Regions from separate parts of the Homo sapiens genome. Here region 1 is linked to region 2. A link means that fine-mapping ties the variant in region 2 to the expression of a gene that starts in the linked region. Tissue or cell type: whole blood. Region 2 holds a variant in brackets; the other region holds the start of a gene. All regions are shown on one strand. Distances are between the middles of the regions.

The links. PIP is the estimated chance that this variant, and not a neighbour inherited with it, causes the effect.
Region 1: WAPL starts here. The variant in region 2 is fine-mapped to the expression of WAPL in whole blood (INTERVAL, PIP above 0.99).

The regions. Positions count from the first base shown.
Region 1 is chr10:86,517,432-86,525,577 of GRCh38, reverse strand. WAPL (WAPL cohesin release factor) reads left to right here and starts at 3,786. Exons shown (of 19, transcript NM_015045.5): 1 at 3,786-4,213; 2 at 7,487-8,007. The coding sequence starts at 7,509. WAPL-DT (WAPL divergent transcript) reads right to left here and starts at 3,631. Exons shown (of 2, transcript NR_186498.1): 1 at 3,169-3,631; 2 at 477-3,069. RefSeq lists silencers at 3,173-3,732, 3,873-4,292.
Region 2 is chr10:86,424,322-86,432,513 of GRCh38, reverse strand. No RefSeq gene overlaps it. Among named protein-coding and RNA genes, the nearest start is that of GRID1, 62 kb to the right of the region's middle. RefSeq lists an enhancer at 880-1,049. The variant A/TA (reference allele first, on the strand shown) is at 4,365.

The DNA of each region.
Region 1 (8,146 bases), 93 kb before region 2:
TTTTATTCAACAAATATTTATTGAGCACCTACTCTTGTGCCAGGCAGTCTTCTAGGTGCTAGGGTTGCAGCAGAAAACAAGACAGGCAGAGATCCCTGCCTTCAGAGGGAGCACAACATTTAAGATAAACATGCAAAATGCCTGATATGTTAGATGGGAAGATAAATGCCCTTAAAGAAAGTAAAGCAGGGACAGTGACATTTAGGAGTGAGGATGTTGCAACAATTTAAGATAGGTTGGTCAGGGGAGATTCATTGAAAAGTCCCATCTGAGTGAAAACCTAGAGGAGAGAATTGAAGCAGGCTGGTATCTGGGGGAGTTGTAGGCAGAGGGAATAGGAAATACAAAGGCCCTAAGGTGGGGAAACAGCAAGGAGTCAGGTGTGGGCAGAGCAGAAAGTTGGGGCTGCATGAGCAAAGGGCAGGGCCTGGCCCACATCTCGTAGAGCTTTGTAATATAACCACAACATGCAAGTGTACAATTTAACATTTTATTCCACATCCGATGGCAAAGAAAAATTGACTGCTACCAATATGGTAGTTTCTGACCTGTAGTTCCCTAAATAGAATTCTATAAGTTGTAATACACTTTACTACACATTATCAGAAAAAGACTAAAAGTTCTATTTAGTAACTCCAATTCTGACAGTTCTCATGTCTGGGCTAGAACAAGGGCATGGCAATGGCAGAACAGATGTCTTCTATTTTCTTTGCAGGATTTTCTTTTTTCAGAGGAAAGTACAGGTATGGGCCCACTCAAGTGGAGCTCCAGGTTAGGGGGTTCTGTCCTCACCCAGGCAGCACACAGGAGGGCAGAGGCCCCTCCTAAGGGTACTACAAACTTGGCTCTGATCCATGATTTCAGTTTCTGACAAACACAACATTCAGTGGGGGAAAGAAAATCAGGTATCTGAGAGCTTGCACACAGGCATTCTAGCAAAACCAAAAGCACCTACTGGCTACTTGATGTTAGTGTGAAGATTCTCATGAAATGGAGACAACCATTCTAGGGGTTGAGGTGGCCAGGGGGATGGAGCCTGAGCTGAGAGAACTAAGAAAACAAAAACAATACAACAAAAAGCTGTTCAGCCATGTGTTACCCACACTGGAGTTCTGTTTGCTCATTCTGGTGTGGAACCCAGGGCCCTGGTAAGGGAATGAGGGGACTTCAGGGCATTTGCTTGCCTCAGTGGAAGCAGGGAGGTAAGGGGTTAAGGTGGTGGTACAGCCTGCAGGGCCAGGAGTCTGAACTCCCTCCAGGAGGGGCCCGAGGGGTGTCTTTAGTGTGAGCCACACAAGGGTACAGAGCCCAGAAGAGCTCTGCTTAATATTCATATACTAAGCTTCCACAGACTAAATACACACACACACACACACACACACACACACTCACACACACTTTACTTCTCAAATCATGTACCACTTTCTACCAGATTCAAGAACACCAAGAAGTACTAAAGGGTATCCAACCGTCAAGAAAAAGTTTGACTCCCTCATTAGTTGTAACATACAAGTCTTCCCATTTCCTTACTTGTAAGATAGAGTAATGGACTGGGAAGCAGACAAGGCCCCTGAACAGCCTAGCATCTTACCTGATGCATAGGAGGTTCTTAATCATCTCCCTTCCTCTCCCTCATCCTAACGAAAAATACTAGATTGCTGTCAAATGCTATGGGTATACTTTAAATCAGTGCTTGTCAAACTTTAATGTGCAGCCCAATCAGCTGGGGGAATCCTGTTAAAATGCAGGTTCTGATTCAGTGGAGCTGGGGTGAGGGATAGGAATTATGCGTTCCTTACAGGCTTCCAGGTGATGCTACACTGCTGATTGGGGATCATTCTTTGAGTGGCAAGAATTTGACACTACTAAGTTTCATTACTTAACACAACCATCACATAAAAGCCCTCAAAAGGCACCAGTCTAAACAATAAGCCCTTCCACTTCAGCCTCATGCAGGCACTGACCCTGCCAAGTGTCCAGCACTAGAGAGGCCAGGCATAATAGACATATCCTTTGGTCTTGGGAGGATCACGACACCCTCCTACAGGAAGATCTTGCAATTGTTTCCTCACCTCTTCTGGTTTTTTGATCTTACCTTTTGCCTCTGATGATAATTACCCTTTAATTACCACCCACCACCTTGTCATCTAAATAATTATAGTAAGTGCAGCCTGCACCTCTGCCAGAAGATCTTTAAACAAAATGATAAAAACAAGTTCCTAAACTGCCAATTAAAAAAAGAGACAAAACTGACCCAAATAAAACAGTCATGTGCATCCCACCCACAGTGGAAGACATGGACTTGTTTTTCATATAAACTACAGAAGAAGTTGATTTATTTTGAAACAAGAAAAAGTACTGATTCAGTATTTAGGAAATTGTAAATGTCAGAATATAAATTCTGCAGTCAGGTAGGCAAAACAATCCAACCACACTAAAATCCACCTTAAATTCCTCTTGGGAAGAGCTGCAGGGTCTCTGAACTATTTTTCCTTTATTTGGAGTTTCCCCGATTATACCGGAGGGAGCTGGATAACTTCTGGGTGCATTAAAAGCAAATTATCCATTTGTGGGAGAAGGGCGGGCTTCTCACTGAAAGCAATTAGTAGTTTTCTAATTTCCCAGGTGGGTCTCCATTAACCGCCTAACAAACACCAAGGCTGTCGGAGTCCGACGAATCATGCACCTCTCTTAGGGGGAACTGGTTGCGCTACTCTTTAGAACGCTGTTTTCCCATGGTAGCCTTAAAAAAAACTTACCAATTTTCTGAATTAGGTAACACATTGAATGGGAAAAACCTAAGATAGCACAAAAAGGCGTACAGCGAAAAATTAAGACTCCTTCCTCCCGTCATCCGCCACCTCACTGTCCTCCCTAGAGGCAATCGCTGGTTCACTTCTTTAAACTTTTTATTATGGAAAATTTCAGATACACAAGTAAAGAGACTGTATGATGAGCACATATGCTCGCATCACGCAGCTTCAACGATGAAAAACGTTCTGCCAGCTTGTTTTATTCCTCTCCCCCAGTTTTCATAGGCGTATTTTACAGTCCTGACACCAGATCACTCTGTCAACACATCAGTAGGTCTTAAAAAAAAAAAAACAAAAAACCATAACCACATTACCGTTACCACACCCAACAAAGTTAATGATAATTGCTCAATACCATCCAATATTCTCGGGGCCACTTTCAATCGGTGAGGGGCAGACGGACTTAGAGGAAGGACTGCAGGGCTGGAGGGGCGCGAAAAAGCGAGGGGCGACGCTGCTCGTGGCCTCGGGTGTCCGGCGCCTCGCGGTCCCCGCCATCGTCACCTACGCCGGGCCAGGACCGACCAGGCCAGGTCGAGGGCGGCTCTTGACCACGCGCCCCCTGCCTCCCAGCTCCCGGGCGGCGGCCTCCGCAGGCCCGGCACAGCTGCACAGCCCGCGGTCCCCAGGCACCGGCGGGTCCCTGGAGGGGAAGCGATTGATACAGCTGCCTGCACTGCGCCACCCGCCCGGCTGCCCATCTCCGTGGCACCTGCGTCTCCCGGCTGGGCCGGGAGCTAGAAGTGGCTGCCGAGACCGGGAGGGCCCGGCCAGTCGCCCGCTCCCGCTCCCGCGCCTGGTCCTCGGCCCGCGACCTCGCGGACCTGGACTACAACTCCCGTCGGGCTCCGCGGCCGGGCCAATGGCGGGCGCCGGAGCATGCGGGGCGCAGCGCCTGCGCGGCGGTTTGAGTAAGCGGCTGCGCGATTGGCTGCGGGGTCGGGCGGCCGCGCGGGGACTGTGGGAAGCGGAGTGACGGAGCGAGCGGCTGTTGGAGGAAGGAGGTGGGGGCCGGGAGCGCAAATGGCGTTGAGATGGTTCAGGGCCCTGTTCAAACTCCAGCACTGACCATTCACCGGCGGAAGCGGCGGCGCAGGAGGCGGCGGCGGCCCAGCGGGGGCACACAGCAGGCTCTGTTACCAGCTCCAGCAGTGGCGGCCAGCGAGAGCTAGGCCTGGGCCCGGCCGGCGGCGCTCGAGGCGGGGAGGGAAGTTGCGGGGCCGCCGCTCCTGCCCCCCCAACCGGGCTTCCTATTTACCGAAAGCAGAGTCCCTCGCCTCTCTCGGCTCTCACCTGCCGGCCCTGCTCTCCCGCGCGAGGGTTCCGCGCCCGCCCGCGGGCCGTAGGGAGCGGGAGAGGCGGAGGCGGCCCGTGGCCAAAGCACCCGCCAGGCTCCGAGGGTAAGTGAGGTGTCGGGCGGCCGCCTAGGCCGGGAGGGAGCCGGGAGGGTGGGGGAGGCAGAGGCTGGGAGCGGGCGGTGGAAGTCTCACTGCCTCGCCCACCGGGCCGCTGAGGAAGTTGGGCAGGGGAATGACCTGAGGAACTCTTTTTTTCCCCTTTTATTTTCCTTTTTCGGAGTTCTTTTTCGGGCGACTGCTGATTGACTTAGCTCCCCAAACCCAGTCAAGTGTGTTGATTTCAGCCCCGAGTCCTTTCCCGTGGTTTCATCCGCCTCTGGCCGCCACTGGGGCCTTGCACTGCCTTAAGGATTCGGTGGCAGAGGCTTCCGGGGCGTCGAAAGTGACCTCCCTTTCCTGGGCGGCGCGGGTTGGGAGGAGAAAAGTTGCATTGAGTGTCTAGTCCGAGGGGTCCATCGCGCCCACTGCCCGTGGCGCCCCGGCTGTCCCCAGGTGAGGATTTCTGGTTAGTCAGGTTCGTCCCGTCCGCTTTCCATCTTTAATGGAAGCCCTTAAAGCCTTTGGGGATCGGGAAGACGCTAGATTAGGGTGGGAGTGAAGTATAAAGGCTTTTTGCTTTTTTTTTTTTTTTTTTTTTTTTAAATCACAGCGCACTTCTCTCAAAATTCGACCTGATTTTGGGCTAGGGCAAAAGCCGAACGACCGAAAAGACTTAGTCGTCAATCATTCTTTCCTTTTTAGTTAGGACAGTCTTTGGAGTTTAAAGGTTGAGCAAGATTGTGTACTTGAAACACTTAAAATTTAACTTCAAGGACGTCTGCACACTTATTTTGGAATCTGTAGTGCTTTACGCTTAGATAATGCCATTGCAAAGACATTTTATTGTGGGAAACGATAAAGGCAATCAGGAGGAGATATTATATAATGAACTTCTCTGTACCCATCGCTTGGATTTAGCAGTGACTATTAAACAAATTTATTTCATCTATACACTTCTCATTCCTTAATGTTGGAAAATCGCTGACGTTATTTCATCAGTATTTCACTATGTATTTGTAAAAGACGTGGTCTTTTGGCACAAAATTATTATTATCATTATTATTATTATTTTGAGACGGAGTTTCGCCCTTGTTGCCCAGGCTGGAGTGCAGTGGCGCGATCTCAGCTCACCGCAACCTCCGCCTCCCAGGTTCAATTGATTCTCCTGCCCCAGCCTCCGGAGTAGCTGGGATTACAGGCATGCGCCACCACGCCCGGCTAATTTTCTATTTTTAGTAGAAACGTGGTTTCTCCATGTTGGTCAGGCTGGTCTCGAACTCCTGGCCTCAGGTGATCTGCCCGTCTTGGCTTCCCAGAGTGCTGGAATTACAGGCGTGACCTGCCGCCCCCAGCCAGCACAAAATTATTTTTTATCACATAAAATAATTAAGTCCTTAGTGTCAGGTATTCATCTGAAGACTTCAAACTTTCAACAGTGAATGCTTTGTGGTTATAGAACCATTTTAACAGTTTTTCTGATGTTGGCATAAAGGAACTCAAGTCTAGATTTTTGGTTTGGCCTTTGGTTAGTATTTTTAGATGATTAGCACATAAGTGAATCCAAAACATTCCATCTTTGTTGGTGTGTATGTGTACGTACACTTACAGACCTGCAGGATCTCAGCTTTACATTCTTGAAGGAACAGAGAATCGATTTTTATTTTGTTGTCCGTGGTAGTTGCCCAGTATCCTGTTTTGTTTAGGCTGTACTTAACAAGAAAGACAGTAAGACTTGTTAGTGTTAGAGCTGCAGTGGAAGATGAAATACATCTCCTTCAGGAACACTGTTTTCTCTTAACGCAGATATGTATGATGACTAAATTATTACCTTGTCAAATTAAAATTGGGTTCTCACCAAACATGGGGGGGGGTCTACTACTGAATTTATATAAAACTCAGACAGTGACTCATTATAAATGGTAAGAATTTAAGTTAATCAAGGGAAAACAAGTGTAGATCAAAACATATTCAAAAGTATAGGTCAAATATAATTTCAATTCTTGTAGCTTTCAAAGTAATGATTTTTCATTCCTTAGGCCCTTGTTCACTTTTTAAAGTTATATTCGATGTATTCATGTTTGAACTGTAGAAAGGTCAAAGTGTTAGACAAACGGTTACTGATTGATCATGTTTAAAAAGTACTATAACTTTTTAATAGGCACAGAACTAATGCAAGTAACTTGTTTTAAAAAATGTTTGACTCTTGATTTACTGCCCTAAAGATTTTTTTTTTTGTCCTGTGAAGTAGATAAATCAGGTGAATCGATTTGCCATTTATAAATTGAAAAGGAAAATAAAAGTTGTATGTTTCTATGTCTGTATTAATCCATGAAACAGTGTAATATGCTGGAGCTCACTAGCCCCAGAAAATATAACTCAGCAAATGAGCACAGCACTATCGGGACAAGGCAGATAGGATAAGGATAGTTTCTTTCCCTAGGGAGATGACCATCTAAGGAACATTTTTAAAGTCACAGCGCAAATTACATTACACCAAGAAGCAGAATCTTCAAGATTGGGTTAAAAGCTGCAGGTTGTAAAACATGAGAAAAAGCACCATTTTGGGGACCTTTTTTCTCATGTGAATTAGTGCCATGAAATTTCAAAGAACTAAATTTAATCAAGTATTGGATATTTCTGAGGCCCTGAAAAAAACTAACATTCTGTGCTTAAGATTTTATATAAGTAATTACCCTATACAGGTTATCATTATATCACTGCAACCTCCATCTCCTGAGTTCAAGCGGTTCTTCTGCTCCAGCTTCTCAAGTAGCTGGGATTACAGGTGCGTGCCACCACTCCCAGCTAATTTTTGTATTTTTAGTAGAGATGGGGTTTCACCGTGTTGGGCAGGCTGGTCTCAAACTCCTGGCCTCAAGTGAGCTGCCTGCCTCGGCCTCCCAGCCTCTATACAGATAATTTTTTAAGGTAAAAATGATGTTTATAAGAATAGTAAATTAATTCATTTGGAACTTAATATGCTTCATTTTAAGTTAGCTTTATGGATATCGTATTATAAGTTGGTTAATCATTAAGTTTTTTTACTTTGTAAGTAGCGTAGGAATATGTACTCATTGTGGAGGAAAATTGACATGGAAGCATGTAGGGTAATAAATCAGCCTTTCTTTATACCCCTTCCTCATATTTGTTTATTTAAAAGTCTGTGTGGTGAGTGTCAAAAGTCATGAGGGAAGAATCCCTAGGTTTTTATTTTTATATGCACTGTTTAACACTTGTATTTGATGATTATATGTTTTCTTAAATTTTTTTTCACAGAGAATATGAAACTGGTGTCAAAATGACATCCAGATTTGGGAAAACATACAGTAGGAAAGGTGGAAATGGCAGTTCAAAATTCGATGAAGTCTTTTCCAACAAACGGACTACCCTTAGCACAAAATGGGGAGAGACCACATTTATGGCTAAATTAGGGCAGAAGAGGCCCAATTTCAAACCAGATATCCAAGAAATTCCGAAGAAACCTAAAGTGGAAGAAGAAAGTACTGGAGATCCTTTTGGATTTGATAGTGATGATGAGTCTCTACCAGTTTCTTCAAAGAATTTAGCCCAGGTTAAGTGTTCCTCTTATTCAGAATCTAGTGAAGCTGCTCAGTTGGAAGAGGTCACTTCAGTACTTGAAGCTAATAGCAAAATTAGTCATGTGGTCGTTGAAGACACTGTCGTTTCTGATAAATGCTTCCCTTTGGAGGACACTTTACTTGGGAAAGAAAAGAGCACAAACCGAATTGTAGAAGATGATGCAAGCATAAGTAGCTGTAATAAATTAATAACTTCAGGTAAGTTTTGATTTTCTTTATTCTCCGCCAAGAGAGCTTTGTGCAACCAATTTATTTAAATGATTTAAATTCTAAAATATATATTGTGTTTTCTTTCTGCACTTATGATACATGGGGACCATTGATAGTTTTGTAAAAG
Region 2 (8,192 bases):
TTAAATCAGAAGTCAATACAGATCTAGAAAACTTTGAAAAATAATACACTTCCTAGTAGTCTTTGAAGGGGAATTAGAAAGTTTAATGATCTGAATGACAAAATGCAACATATCAAAATTTGTGGAATACACTTAAAGCAGTGCTTAGAGGAAAATTAAGAAGGCTTAAATTATCCTAATTTCTATGTGAAGCTAGATGAACAATTAAACCTAAAGTAAGTTCAAGGAAAAAAATATGAGCAGAAATTAATATAATAAAAGACAAGTAATAGAAAAATTTTACCAAAGCCAAAAGATGATTCTTTGTAGTTAATAAAACTGATAAATCCTTAGCAAGACTAATCAAGAAAGAAAAAAACACAAATTATCAACGTCAGAAATAAAAGATGGAATACAGATGCTATAGGCCTAAAAGGATAAATAATTTTAAAATTTTTATAATTAAAATATTTTTATTACTTAATAGAGACAAGGTCTTACTCTGTTGCTCAGGCTGGTCTTGAACTACTTAGCTCTGATCCTCCTGCCTTGGTTTCCCAAAGTGCAAGCATTACAGACGTGAGCCACCACACCCGGTCAGATAAAGAATTTTATGAATAATTTAAGCCAGTAAATTTTACAAATTAAATGAACGAATTCCTTGCAAAACAAACTTACCAAAACTAATTCAAGAAACAGAAAGCCTCATTAGCCCTATATTCAAAACAATTGAATTTGTACTTTAAAATCTACATATAAGTCCTGTCCCAGAAGACTTCATTGATGCATTACATGAAACACAAGGAAGAATTAATATCCATTTACACAGAAAGTAGAGAAGAGAATACTTACCAAATCAGTGTATAAGCCTTACCTATATATCTCCAATACAAAGCGCAAAGATATTGCAAGGAAAAAAAATAGCAACATTTTTATAGATGCAAAATATTTAACAAAGTATTACAAGATCAAATCCATTACTATGTAAAAAGTATAATACATCACAACAAGGTATTTATCAAAGGAGTGTAAAATTGGTTTATTATCCTTTAGATACAGAAAAACCATTTTCCAAAATGCAACACCTATTCATGGTTAAGAAACAAGCAACAACGCAGTGGCTCACGCCTGTAATCCCAGCACTTTGGGAGGCCAAGGCAGGTGGATTGCTTGAGCACAGGAGTTTGAGACCAGCCTGGGCAAATGGCGAAACCCTGTCTCTATAAAAAATACAAAATTAGCCAGGTGTGGTAGTGTGCGCCTGTGGTCCCAGCTACTAGCAGCTACTAAGGCAGGAGAATCTCATGAGCACAGGAGGTCGAGGCTGCAGTGAGGTGTGATTGCACCACTGCCCTACAGCCTGGGTGACAGAATGAGACCCTGTCTCAAAAAAAGAGAAAGAAATAGGAACTAATCTTGATCCCCGCCCTCAGAAGAGAGCAGGTATGAAAAGTGTACAATAATTGAACTTGATGAGTCACTGAATGCTTTCCTCTGAAGATCAAAAACAAGGCAGAAATTTCCAATATCAACACTTCTACTTTGTATAAAAGTAGAATTGACAAGCTGATTCTAAAATTCACCTGGAAATGCAAAGGACATAAAATAGTAAAAATAATCTTGAAGAATAACAAAGCTGGAGGACATACACTATTGACCTTCTAGTTTCACGATAAAACCACAATGGTCAAGACCATGTATTCGCATGAGGACAAGATCAATACAATGAAGGCAGAGCCTAGAAATAGGTCAACAGATACACGGTCAACTGATTTTTGACAGAGGCACCAGAGCAATTTAATGTAGAAATTAAAATATTTTTAACAAATGGTTATGAAACAAGTGAATACCCATATTTAAAAAAAAAATCTTGACCCTTACCTTATGCTAAACATAAAAATTAATTCCATATGGATCATAGATCTCAATGTAAAAGCTAAAACTATAAAGCTACTACAAAAAGAAAGAACGAGGCCAGGCGTGGTGGCTCAGGCCTGTAATCCCAGCACTTTGGGAGGCTGAGGCAGGCAGATTGCCTGAGCTCAGGTGTTCGAGACCAGCCTGGGCAACATGATGAAACCCCGTCTCTACTAAAACACAAAAAATTAGCTGAGCGTGACAGCCTGTGCCTGTAGTCCCAGCTACTTGGGAGGCTAAGGTGGAAGGATCACCTGAGCCCAGGAGATGGAGGCTGCAGTGAGTGGAGATCATGCCACTGTACTCCAGCCTGGGAGATAGAGCCAGACCTCGTCTCAAAAATAAAATAAAAATTGGCCAGGCGTGGTGGCTCATGCCTGTAATCCCAGCACTTTGGGAGGCTGAGGCAGGTGGATCACGAGGTCAGGAGTTCAAGGACCAGCCTGACCAACATGGTGAAACCCCATCTCTACTAAAAATACAAAAATTCTTCGGGCGTGATGGCAGATGCCTGTAATCCCAGCTACTTAGGAAGCTGAGGCAGGAGAATCACTGGAACCCCGGAGGCAGAGGTTGCAGTGAGCCGAGATCGTGCCATTGCACTCCAGGCTGGGTGACAGAGGGAGACTCCCATCTCAAAAATAAATAAATAAATAAAATAAAAAGTGGCCAAGTGTGGTGGCTCATGCCTGTAATCCTAGAACTTTGGGAGGCCGAGGCAGGTGGATCACGAGGTCAGGAGATTGAGATCATCCCGGCCAACATGGTGAAACCCCGTTTCTACTAAAAATACAAAAATTAGCTGGGTGTGGTGGCATGCACCTGTAATCCCAGCTACTGGGGAGGCTGAGACAGGAGAATTGCTTGAACCCGGGAGGCAGAGGTTGCAGTGAGCAGAGATCTTGCCACTGCACTCCAGCCTGGAGACAGAGTGAGACTCCATCTCAAAAAAAAAAAAAAAAAAAAAAGATAAAAAAACCCATAAATTACAATGAGATGCTATTGTGTATTCAGTAGAATGGCCAGTTCAAAAGATGACAGCACCAAATGGTGGCACATCAACAACTGGAACTTTTTTTTAATGCTGTTGGGAATGTAAAATCATAACACCACTTTGGACGAGTTTTGTCAATTCCTTGTGAGAATAAAGTTATGCCTGTCTGGGCTGAGTGCACTGGCTCATGCCTGCAATCCCAGCACTTTGGGAGGCCGTGGCAGGAGGATCACTTGAGGGCAAGAGTTCAAAACCAGCCTGGGTAATGTGGTGAGACCTCATCTTTGCCAATGAATAGATAGATAGATAGATAGATAGATAGATTGATAGATAGATAGATAGATAAAAGCTGGGCATAGTGGCACATGCCTGTAGTCCCATCTGAGGCAGGAGGATTGCTTGAGCCCAGGAGGTTGAAGCTACAATAAGCCATGATTGTACCACTGCACTCCAGCCTGGGCCACAGCTAAAATATATATATATATATATTTTATATTTTATATATATAATATATATTATATTTTATATATTTATATATAATATATATTATATTTTATATATTTATATATAAAATATATATAATATATATTATATATATATTTATCTGTTCTTCAACCTAACAATTTCACTTTATCCAGAAGAAATGAAAATATTCAACAGAAAAAGTTGTGGAAAATGTTCACAGTCATTTTATCAACAAATAGCCAAACACTGGAAACAACTCAAATGTCCGTCCGCAGACAATAAACAAATTGATAGATTTATGCAATAATATACTACTTAGTAATAAAGAGGAACGAATTACTTTTTAAATCAACAACATGAAGAAATTTCACATTCATAACGCTCAGTGGAAGAAGCTGAATTTTCAAAATACATATAATACAGCCATGTGCAGTGGCTCACACCTGTAATCCCAGTGCTTTGGGAGGCCAAGGTGGGAGGATCGCTTGAGACCACGAGTTTGAGACCTATAATATGCATCAATTTATACAAAATTGTAGAACAGGCAATGTTATCTAAGGTGAAAACATTCAGAACAATTTATTTAAAAGACAGTAATAAGCAGTTAAATGAAAACCTCTATATGCTTAGAAATGTAAAAAACACAACCTGATAACTCATGGGTTAAATCAATTATAATTTATTTTTATTTTTATTTTTTTTTTTTGAGACGGAGTCTTGCTCAGTCACCCAGGCTGGAGAGCGGTGGTATGATCTTGGCTCACTGCAACCTCCAACTCCTGGGTTCAAGTGATTCTCCTGCCTCACCCTCCCGAGTAGCTGGGATTACAGGTGCATGCCATCATGCCCAGTTAATTTTTGTATTGTTAGTAGAGACAGGGTTTCACAGGTTGGCCAGGCTGGTCTCAAACTCCTGACCTCAAATGATCCACCCGCCTCAGCCTCCCAAAGTGCTGGGATTACTGGCGTGAGCCACCGCACCTGGCCATAATTTTTTTTTTTTTTTTTT[A/TA]AATTAGAACTAGGCTGGTGACAGTGGGTCACACCTGTAATCTCAGCACTTTTAGGAGGCTGAGGCGGGTGGATCACCTCAGCCCAGGAGTTCGAGACCATCCCGGGGAACATGGCAAAACCCCATCTCTATGAAAAATACAAAATTAGCCAAGTGTGGTGGCACGCGCCTGTAATCCCAGCTACTTGATAGGCTGAGCGGGGAGGATCACTTGAACCCAGGGGTCGAAGATTGCAGTGAGCCCTGATTGAGCCACTGCACTCCAGCCTAGGTGAAAGAGTGAGACCCTGTCTCAAAAAAATAAAAATTTTAATTTAAAAAATAAATTAGAACTGGATGACAATGAAAATAAAATATATCAAAAGTCATGGTGCAGGGCACGGTGGCTCACGCCTGTAATCCCAGCACTTTGGGAGGCTGAGGCGGGCAGATCACTTGAGGTCAGGAGTTCGAGACCAGCCTGGTCAACACGGTGAAACCCTGTCTCTACTAAAAATACAAAATTAGCCGGGCGTGGTGGCACATGCCTGTAATCCCAGCTACTTGGGAGGCTGAGGCAGGAGAATCGCTTGAACCCCGGAGGCAGAGGTTGCAGTGAGCCAAGATCGTGCCATTGCACTTCAGTTTGGGCAACAAGAACAAAACTCCGTTTCAAAAAACAAAAAAAAAAGTTACGGGATACAGCAAAATTTTTATCTTTAAATGCTTATATTTGAAAGACAGAATGACTAAAATTGTAAAGTACATATTATTCATCTTAATGACAGAGTAAGAGCAATAGAATAAACTCTTAATAAGTAGAAGGAAGAAGATAATGGCAAATTTTTTAAAATTGGTGAAAAATGGATTCTTTGAAAAGTCTAAATTTTGAGTACACTCACCAAGAAGGAGGGAATAAAATACAAATTACAAAAGTAAGTATAAAAATCAATACATGTGGGCCAGGCGTGGTGGCTCACGCCTGTAATCCCAGCACTTTGGGAGGCTGAGGCGGGCAGATCACAAGCTTGGGAGTTCGAGACCAGCCTGGCTAACATGGTGAAACCCTGTTTCTACTAAAACTACAAAAAATTAGCCAGGCGTGGTGGTGCATGCCTGTAATCCCAGCTACTTGGGAGGCTGAGGCAGGAGAATTGCTTGAACCCAGGAGGCAGAGGTTGCAGTGAGCCGAGATTGCCCCATTGCTCTCCAGCTTGGGCAACAAGAGCGAAACTCCATTTCAAAAGAAAAAAAAATCAATACATGCTATCCTGTATGAAATAAATAAATATTAAAAAGACAATATATGAGTACAGAAACACTAGAGATTAAAAAAGTTTTAACTAACTACTCTGAATAAATGCATGCTAATGAATTTATGACTTAAATGAAGTGGGCAAATTCCTAGAATAATATAGCAAAAAAGAAAAACCTGGCCAGATGTGGTGGCTCATGCCTGTAATACCAGCACTTTGGGAGGCTGAGGTTGGTGAATCACATGAGATCAGGAGTTCGAGACGAGTCTGGGCAACGTGGTGAAACTCTGTCTCTACTAAAAATACAAAAATTAGCTTCACGTGGTGGCACACGCCTGTAATCCCAACTAGCTGGGAGGCTGAGGCACAAGAATCCCTTGAACCTGGGATGTAGAGTCTGCAGTGAGCCAAGATCATGCCACAGCACTCCAGCCTGGGTAACAGAGCAAGACTGTCTCAAAAAAGAAAAAAAAAAAAAAACCCGACACAAAAAGGGATAGAGTTTTACAATTTCTAAAGAAATTGAATCAGTATTATTAAAAGATTTCTAAACACACAGGACACAAAGTCCATGGTTTTGAAAGTTATTTCCACTAAATTATCAAGAAATAATTTCAATCTTATACAAATTCTTCTGGAGCATTGAAAAAGAGGGAACTCAGAAACTCCCCTAAATATTCAATGAAGGCTATATAACGATAAAAATAAGAAAAGGACAAGAAGAGAAAGACAAATTTCAGGGTAATCTCCTTAATAACCATAGATAATAAATTCCTTTACAATATGTTAGAAAATTGAGTCCAGAAATATATAAAAAGCTAATACAATGTCCAAGTTGAATTTATCACAGAATGCAGTGGTGAATTAACATTAGAATAATCAACAAATGTAACTTATCACATAAGTGAGGAAAATCATGAGGCCTTCTCAGTGACTGCACAAAAAGCATTTAATTGGCCGGGCATGGTGGCTCACGCCTGTAATCCCAGCACTTTGGGAGGCTGAGGCGGGTGGATCACCTGAGGTCAGGAGTTGGAGACCAGCCTGGCCAACCTGGCGAAACCCCATCTCTACTAAAAATACAAAAATTAGCCGGGCATGGTGGCGCACGCCTGTAATGCCAGCTACTCGGGAGGCTGAGGCAGGAGTATCGCTTGGACCTGGGAGGTGGAGGTTGCGGTGAACTGAGATTGTGCCACTGCACTCCAGCCTGGGCAACAGAGTAAGACTCCAGTTCAAAAAAAAAAAAAAAAAAAGTAGGCAAAATATTTAAACAAGTACTTCACAAAAGAAAATATAAGCAAGATAAATAAGTGCAAGAAAAAATCCTAAACATCATTAGTCTTTAGGGAAATAAAGATTAAAACCATGATAGTGTATAACTCATACATATTAGAATGTCTAAAATTAAAAGACTGACCACACCAAGCGTTGGCAAAAAGGTGAAGCAACTGGAACTTTCTCTTTTTAATTTTTAATTTTCATGGATACATATTAGTTTTACATATTTATGGGGTACATGTGATATTTTGATACAAGCGTACACTGTGTAATGACCAAATCAAAGTAATTAGAATATCCATCAACTCAAACATTTAGCATTGCTTTGTGCTGGGAACATTCCAAATCTACTCTTGTAGTTATTTTGAAATATACAATAAATTATTGTTAATGATAGTCGCCCTATTGTGCTACCAAACACTCGATCTTATTCCTACAATCTAACTATATTTTTGCAGCACTAATCACATGCTTTAGTTCCATCACCCATTAACCAGCTCCTTTTTATCCTCCCTGAATGCTATGCTTCCCAGCATCTAGTAGCCATCATTCTACTATCTACCTCCAAGAGATCAATTTTCTTAGCTCCCCCATCAGTGAGAACATGAGACACTTGTCTTTCTGTGCCTGGCTTATTTCACTTAACATAATGTTCTCTAGTTCCAGCCATGTTGTTGCAAGGGACAGGATTTTATTTATTTTTTTATTATTATTTTTTCGAGACAGAGTCTTGCTCTGTTGCCAAGGCTGGAATTCAGTGATGTGATCACAGCTCACTGCAGTCTTGACCTCCCAGGCTCAAGCTATCCTCCTGCCTCACCCTCCCAAAGTATTGGGATTACAGGTGTGAACCACCGTTCCTGGCAATATTATTCTTTTCTATGGCTGAATAATATTCCACTGTGTATCTATACCACATTTTCTTTTTCTTTTCTTTTTTTCTTTTTTCTTTTTTTTTTTTTTGAGATGGAGTCTCACTCTGTCACCCAGGCTGAGTGCAGTGGCATGATCTCAGCTCACTGCAACCTCTGCCTCCCCGGTCCAAGCGAGTCTCCTGCCTCAGCCTCCTCAGTAGCTGGGATTACAGGTGCGTGCCACCACACCAGGCTAATTTTTGTATTTTTAGTAGAGATGAGGTTTCTCCGTGTTGGCCAGGCTGGTCTTGAACTCCTGATCTCAAGTGATCCGCTCGCCTTGGCCCTGAAAAGTGCTGGGATTACGGGCGTGAGCCACTGTGCCTGGCCACCACCTTTCTTTATCCATTTATCCGTTGGTAGACACAGTGGAATTGTTGATTCCATATCTTGGCTAT